Homo sapiens: one gene and its partner. The protein of the gene in region 1 interacts with the protein of each later gene in a pairwise test. Each region holds a gene or a part of one and is shown on either strand. Other genes may lie near its edges.

What was found. The genes of interacting proteins can lie anywhere in the genome.
Region 2: the proteins of NTAQ1 (region 1) and MOB2 interact in binary tests that used the Homo sapiens proteins (3 or more experiments, as listed by UniProt).

The regions. Positions count from the first base shown.
Region 1 is NC_000008.11:123,426,774-123,430,273, reverse strand, and holds part of NTAQ1 (protein N-terminal glutamine amidohydrolase), read right to left. Parts: intron 2,351-3,500; coding exon 2,251-2,350; intron 292-2,250; coding exon 241-291; intron 1-240. UniProt on the Homo sapiens protein: Mediates the side-chain deamidation of N-terminal glutamine residues to glutamate, an important step in N-end rule pathway of protein degradation.
Region 2 is NC_000011.10:1,480,280-1,483,779, forward strand, and holds part of MOB2 (MOB kinase activator 2), read right to left. Parts: intron 608-3,500; coding exon of another isoform or gene 607-607; coding exon 446-606; intron 208-445; coding exon 114-207; intron 1-113. UniProt on the Homo sapiens protein: Stimulates the autophosphorylation and kinase activity of STK38 and STK38L.

The DNA of each region.
Region 1 (3,500 bases):
AAATATATCCACCATTTAAAATCATTCCTATAATAATTTCAAAACAAAAAGTTAAAAGAAAATATGCCTACAGTGTTTCTACCTTAGATCAAATAACATCTATTCTCAAAAGGTCAATTTATTAATAATTACCATAGCCTTTCTCTACTGCTTAGGTCACTTCTGCTTTACCAAAACATACAGAACACTAAGGGGTTACAAGTCATAATGCGTCAATACTCTCTGTATTAACTGTCTTACCCAGATCACAGGTCCATCTCCAGGTCTCGCCTGTTGTTTCCAGATAGGTATCTACAAAATACAATACATTTCGTAAGCCATACCTTTAGTTAAACCACTACTAAATTATTTTCCTTTTTTTTTTTTTGAGACGGGATTTTTTTTTTTTTTTTTTGAGACAGAGTCCTGCTCTGTCACCCAGGCTGGAGTGCAGTGGCACAATCTGGGCTTACTGCAACCTCCACCTCCCGGGTTCAAGCAATTCTCCTGCCTCAGTTTCCCAAGTAGCTGGGATTACAGGCGTGTGCCACCACACCCAGCTAATTTTTTATTTTTATTTTTTGATGAAGGGTTTTGACACAAGGTTTCATCATGTTGGCCAGGCTGGTCTCGAACTCCTGATCTCAAGTGATCTGCCCACCTCAGCCTCCCAAAGTGCTGGGATTATAGGCGTGAGCCACCGCACCTGGCCAAGACAGGATCTTGTGATGCTGCCCTGGCTGGAGTGCAGTGGCTACTCACAGGTGCCATCATAGTATACTGCAGCCTTGAACTCTTGGCTTCAAGAGATCTGCCCGCCTCAGCCGCCTCACAAGTAGCTGGGACTACAGGCACGTGTCACTGTACCTGGCTACTACTATTTAAAGCAATACATACATGAGAAATAAAATATTTTTAAGCATGCAAAAATCAAGGTGAAGGAATGAATGAAGAGGAAGAAATCGAAATCCTTCTAAGTATCCCCAACAATGAAAGCTCTCAAGAGCACTAGTTATTGTATGATGGTCTTTGGAGAGTGAAAAGGGATCTGAACTAGGAATCAGAAGTCCTGGCAGGTATCAAATCTTGCTCTCCCATTTAATTATTCATAGGGCCACCCTAAGTCTTAATCTCTTCATCTATAAAATGAAGAAACTTGTCCAAATATTGCCTGCTTCACAGGGCTTCCATTGGGATCAAATGAGATGATGCCTGCAAATGTGTTTTACAAAATATGAAGGGCTTACTTTTTCTAATTCTTCATGTAAGTTGACTGTAGTTCTATTTAAACTCCAGAGACAAATCCTTACTTTAAAACTGAGAGTATGCGTCTCTAAGCAATTTTTAAAAAGTCTACATCTTCCATCTTGAATTTAAAAAAAGAAAAAAAAATGGCCAGGCACAGTGGCTCATGCTGGTAATCCCACCACATTGGGAGGCCAAGGCAGACAGGTCACCTGAGGTTAGGAGTTCGAGACCAGACTGGCCAACATGGAGAAAGCCTGTCTCTACTGAAAATACAAAAATTAGCCGGCCATCGTGGTGGGACACCTGTAGTCCCAGCTACTTGGGAGCCTGAGACACAAAAATCACTTGAACCTGGGAGGCAGAGGTTGCAGTGAGCCGAGATCACACCATTGTGCTATAGCCTGGGCAACAGAGTGAGACTCCGTACCAAAAAATAAAAGAAAAAACAAACAAACAAACAAAAAAAAACAGGTCTACATTGATACCTAAAGAAAAGGGACTTTATCTGCGTAGACCATCACATATTTCCTTACCTAAAGTAAGGGACTAAGCTGGGCATGGTGGCTCACACCTGTACTCCCAGCACTTTGGGGGGCTGAGGTGGGAGGATCACTTGAGGCCAGGAGTTCGAGACCAGCCTGGCCAACATAGCAAAACCCCATCTCTACTAAAAAATACAAAAATTAGCTGGGCGTGGTGGCACATGCCTGTAGTCTCAGCTACTTGGGAGGCTGAGGCAGGAGAATCGCTTGAACCCGGGAGGTGGAGGTTGCAGTGAGCCAAGAATCACGCCACTGCACTCCAGCCTGGGCGACAGAAGGGACTCAACTCTTCTAACTCAATCGTGCCTTGTAAGGAAAAAAATCTCATTCAAAAGCAAGCTTTTAAATGTTGCTGTATTTAATAAAGCACACTTCAGAAGAGTACTACACCCATGCTATATTTAGCTTTTTTTTTTTTAATTTAGCTTCTAATGTCATCCTAAATCTCTTGTTTTCTTTCTGCAATCACTCACCAACTTACCATCTTCCTCTCATTAGATATGAAGACAGCATAACATTCTTCTAAAGGATACTGGTCATGGTTTTTGATGTATTCACAGAGCTTCCAAATATTTTCTTCACTGAAATAAAATAATTGTTTAATCAAGATTAGAGAACATTCTATGTGTCTTTTAAATTTGAACAAAATACTGATGATGACATCAAAAAGTTGGAAAAGACCTTAAACCCCATGTCATCCAACAACTGGCTAATGTCTGAATCTCCTCTAAAACATCCCAACAAGCTGGTATTCAACCTATACTGTGTGTAAACCCCTCTCCACACAGAGCTAATTACCTCCCCTAGCAGTGCTTGTACATGGAGGCATTTTATAACTGATAAAATATGTCAATATTCTATGAGTTTTGGGCCCAGCAACTTGTAATACAGCTGAAATTCTAACTCAGCCACTTACAAGGTAAGAACCTTTGACAAAGGCCAGGCGTGGTGGCTCAGGCCAGTAATCCCAGCACTTTGGGAGGCCGAGGCGGGCGGATCACGAGGTCAGGAGTTCGAGACCAGCCTGGCAGAGAGACCAGCCTGACCAATATGGTGAAACCCCGTCTCTACTAAAAATACTAAAATTAGCCAGGCATGGTGGCGGGTGCCTGTAATCCCGGCTACTTGGGAGGCTGAGGCAGGAGAATTGCTCGAACCTGAGAGACAGAAGTTGCAGTGAGCCAAAGATCACACCACTGCACTCTAGCCTGGACAACAGAGCAAGACTCCAACTCAAAAAAAAAAAAAAAAAAAAAAGCTTTGACCATCTTGACTTCTCCAAGAATCTGCTTTTCTCATGTGTAAAATGGGCATAATCATATACTGTAAACACACAAAAATCTTAGTTAACACTGGTTCCCTGCTCTCTTTAGAAATGGGGCAGGATGGGTGTTTTGGGTTGAAAGCCTCCTGGCTGGAAAGAATCAGGAGCAATTATGTGATATGTCCGGGAACTCATTTGGGGGAATCCCTGTGAGTGGGATTCCCCATGCCCCTCTAGTAAGAAAGGGACATAATTTTATTTTTTTTATTTATTTATTTTTGGAGACAGAGTCTTACTTCACTGCCCAGGATGGAGTGCAGTGGTGTGATCTCGGCTCACTGCAACCTCCACTTCTCAGGTTCAAGTGATTGTCATGCCTCAGCCTCCTGAGTAGCTGGGATTACAGGCGTGCAGCACCACACCCAGCTAACTTTTGTATTTTTAGTAGAGATGGTGTTTCACCATGT
Region 2 (3,500 bases), on another chromosome or scaffold:
CAGGGTCTCCAGGTGAGAACGGAATCTGAGAGGACAGGAGCCTGGGGCAGCGGGGGCTCAGAGCCCCACCGAGTCTCCCAAGAGAAAGTGGGCTGTAGCCAGGCAGCACTCACGTGTTGCACACGGCCATCGTCTGACACGTCTCTCCTGTGCAGAACTCGGAGATGGTGCTATACTGCAGGTTGATGTGGTGGAAAAACGTCGTGGCTGGAAGAGAAGAGAAGGAGCCAGATGTGAAAAACGCCAGAGCTGAGCCGCCCCGTCCACCCCTGCTTCCAGCAACAGGTGCAGGAGCTCGGCTGGGTGAGCTCTGCCCGTCCACGGGCCACATTCTCCCCTCGCGGCAGGGGGCTGCTGAGCACCAGCCGTGGGGGTCCCCCTTGAGGAGGGGCTTCGAGGAGGAGCAGGGAGGAGGGAGGGGGCCCGCCCCCAGGCCCCCGCGCACTGTTGCTGGCCAGCCACTCGTTAAGGTCAATCTCGCGGGGCAGCACCACCAGCTCCTTGAACTGGAAGTCGGTGATCCTGGCCTTGGTGTGCTCAGGCTCCAGGTAGGCCTTCCTCTCCTCCGCAGCGGGCTTCTTGCCATTAGGCTTGGCTTTGGACTTCCTGCCAAGAGAGGAGACGCGGTGTGGTCACTACACGCCCATCAGACCCAGGGTCTGCCCGGGGGGTCAGTTGTGGCCAGCGCAGGTGTAGAGGGAGCTGCCCGAGCCCATCGGGGCGACACTGCCTCCCTGCCAGGCTCAAAGGACACCAACGGGACACCAACGGTGAGGCTGCTCCGCAGAGGGGCCAGTGGAGCTGCCTTGCGTGGCACCTCCTGGGAAGAAGGGCTGGCGCTCCCACTTGCCACACGGGCCCCTGCACGGAGGGCATCCTCACCCCTCACCAAGTCCTCCAACCAGGGAGGGGCCCAGGGTTTAGGGCCCCCAGCGCCCACCTTCCAGTTTTCCAGTGCTCTTGGAAGGAAAGGAGAAGCAAACCCTCTCACTCCTGGCTTCTTTTGAGTTGGCCAGCCTGTCCCTGCCCCTGCCGCTGGTGGCCCCGGTGAAAACATACCACAGGCCTTGTGCAGGGCACCTGCCTTCCTGGCCAGCCTGAGAGCACGGGGCCCCTGGCATCAGGCGGCAGCCTGGCCTGCAGCTCCAGTATCCCTGTTGTCCACCAGGCCTGGGGAGGCCACAGGGTGATGAGGATGGGGGCCAAAGGTCTTTGTGGCAACCTGACCCTGTCCTTATTTTTTTTCTTTCTTGTTTTGAAAAGTTGCTAATGGTTTATTTAAGAGAAAGAGAAAGGAAAAATGCTCCCTGAATGCCAGGGAAATGTTTCCCTTTCAGCTTCTCACAGCAGATCTTCGCCTTAAAAGGAGACCAGCGCAGGCCTCTGGGGGCAGTGCTGGGAGTAGCCAGAGCCAGGCAGGGAGCAGGGGCAGGAGCAGGGGCAGGGGCAGGGGCAGGGGCAGGGAGGGGCAGGGGCAGGGGCAGGGAGGGGCAGGGGCAGGGCCCCTGGGCCCTGGCACTCCCACTCTGCCATCTCTCCAGAGCACAGGGCGTGGGGTCTGAGGAAGAGGAAGCACAGGTGTGGATGGGCCACATGCAGCGTGGGCACTTGGGGTCCTCACAGTACAGGGGTGGGACAGACAGGGTGAGCTTCCGTGTAGCCTGCAGCCCCTCGCCCCAGCACAGCGAGGCACCCAGACTCCACACCAGCCTGTGCCAGGCCATGCCCAGCGTGTCCACCACAGGGAAGGCTCTCCCCATGACGCTGGGCCTGGCCCTGACCACCGGCAGGTGGGCCTGCACCTCCCTGCCCTGTGCTCTCACAGCACAGCACACCACACCCCACCCGGGCAGCTACAGCCTGGGCTCGGCCTTCCCATTTGGAGGGGTGGGTTGCAGTGGCCCAGGCTGCCAAGCGGGCTACAAGCCGTCTCCCTGCTCTGTGTCTTAGGAGCTGTGTCAACTGGCAAGCTCCAGGTGGCAGTTACCTGGTGGTCGGTCACGCAGGGCTGCCAGCAGGAGCAGCTGTCAGCGCGCTCACTCTCAGGGTGTGCCCCAGGGCCCACTCAGGGAGGCTGCCCTACTGGCAGTTCCTGCCCCCTTGCCAGCCTTCCAGGCTGGGGCTACCTTCCACCTCCGGTCCTCAGAGAGGGCTGGGCAGGGGCAGAACCTGGAGACCTGGCTTCCCTCTCCCAGGCTCTGGCTGTGGTCAGGAGGTAGTGAGCAGCCGCCACTCCGGCACTGGCACCTCAGCCTCCCTGCCTCTTCCCGTCCACACCTGCTCTCCTAGAACACAGAAGAAAAGTACGCACGAGGCCCTCCAGGCTGGGCCTCCCCGAGCTGCTCCCCCAGTCTCACCCTGTCCCCAGCACCCAGGGCTGGCCGGGCCCCGGAGCTTAGTGCACTGTGAGACAAGCCTCCTGCAAGCCTACCTTCTTTGGACCGGGTCACTCATTCCCATGGGGCAGGTGGACGGGCACTGGCCCAAAGGTAGTAGGACCAAGGGGACGCGCAGGACATGGCCTCTGCTCCAGGAACGGCTGTGCGGGCACCAACAGAGGGACTTCCATGGGAAAGCCCCGAACGCCTGGCAGCACCCACGTCTCCCTGACCTCAAGTGCCCTCCTTCCCAGAAGGGCAGGCTCTCAGCGAAGGCCCAGGCCTGGGCAGGAAGCAGTCACTCTGAGGCAGCCCATTGCTCGGTCCAAGCCAGCGGCAGCTACCGAGGAGGCCTCAGAGCACACGACACCTCCATGGCACTCTTCTCGTCCTTAGTCATTCTTGGCTTTGCCCAGTGGAGAAAACACCTCTGCGGCGCCCCCCGCAGGCTCACAGGCTCTGAAACAGGCTCTGTGCCGTCCAGGCCCAGAGGTCTGCCCAGTCACTGCCTCAGTGGCCCAGCTGCCCCTCACCCAGGGAAGTGCCGAGGCCCTGCGCCCTGCTCCCAGCTCCCCCTGTGCTGCTGGCTAGGAGCCCCGGGGCACAGAAAGACCAAGTCCTTCGATGTGGAGGGAGGACTGTGGGAGCAGGCCCCGGCCGCAGGCAGGACAGAGATGGCGCTGAAGGGACTGGGGAGTGGACCCTGGACCTCAGCCCACCCACAGGGCTTCCGTGACCACTTGGAAGAAGCAGAAGGGCAGATGCTGTGTGCACAGCCCCCAAAACAAAGTCCCTCACACTATTCCAACAGGTGGGCTCTGAGCCTGGGTCCTGCCTGGCAGGCACCATGCACTTAGGAGGGCCGGGCCAGATGGAACCACCTCCTTCCTGCCTCCCACACACTCACCAGCCTCACCTCCCTCCTCCCTGCTCTAGATGACCTGTCCTGCCTGCCACAGGGGTCTGCACCCTGTTTGTGGGCACCAGCTGCTGCTCTGCCAACTTGCCCATCTTACACCAGGCCTAGCAAACTTCTCCTGGTCCTTTAAGAGCCTGTCAAATGCCACCCTCCCCATTCTCGCCAGTGGTACCCATGACGTGCCAGTCGGCCTCCTTGGCACC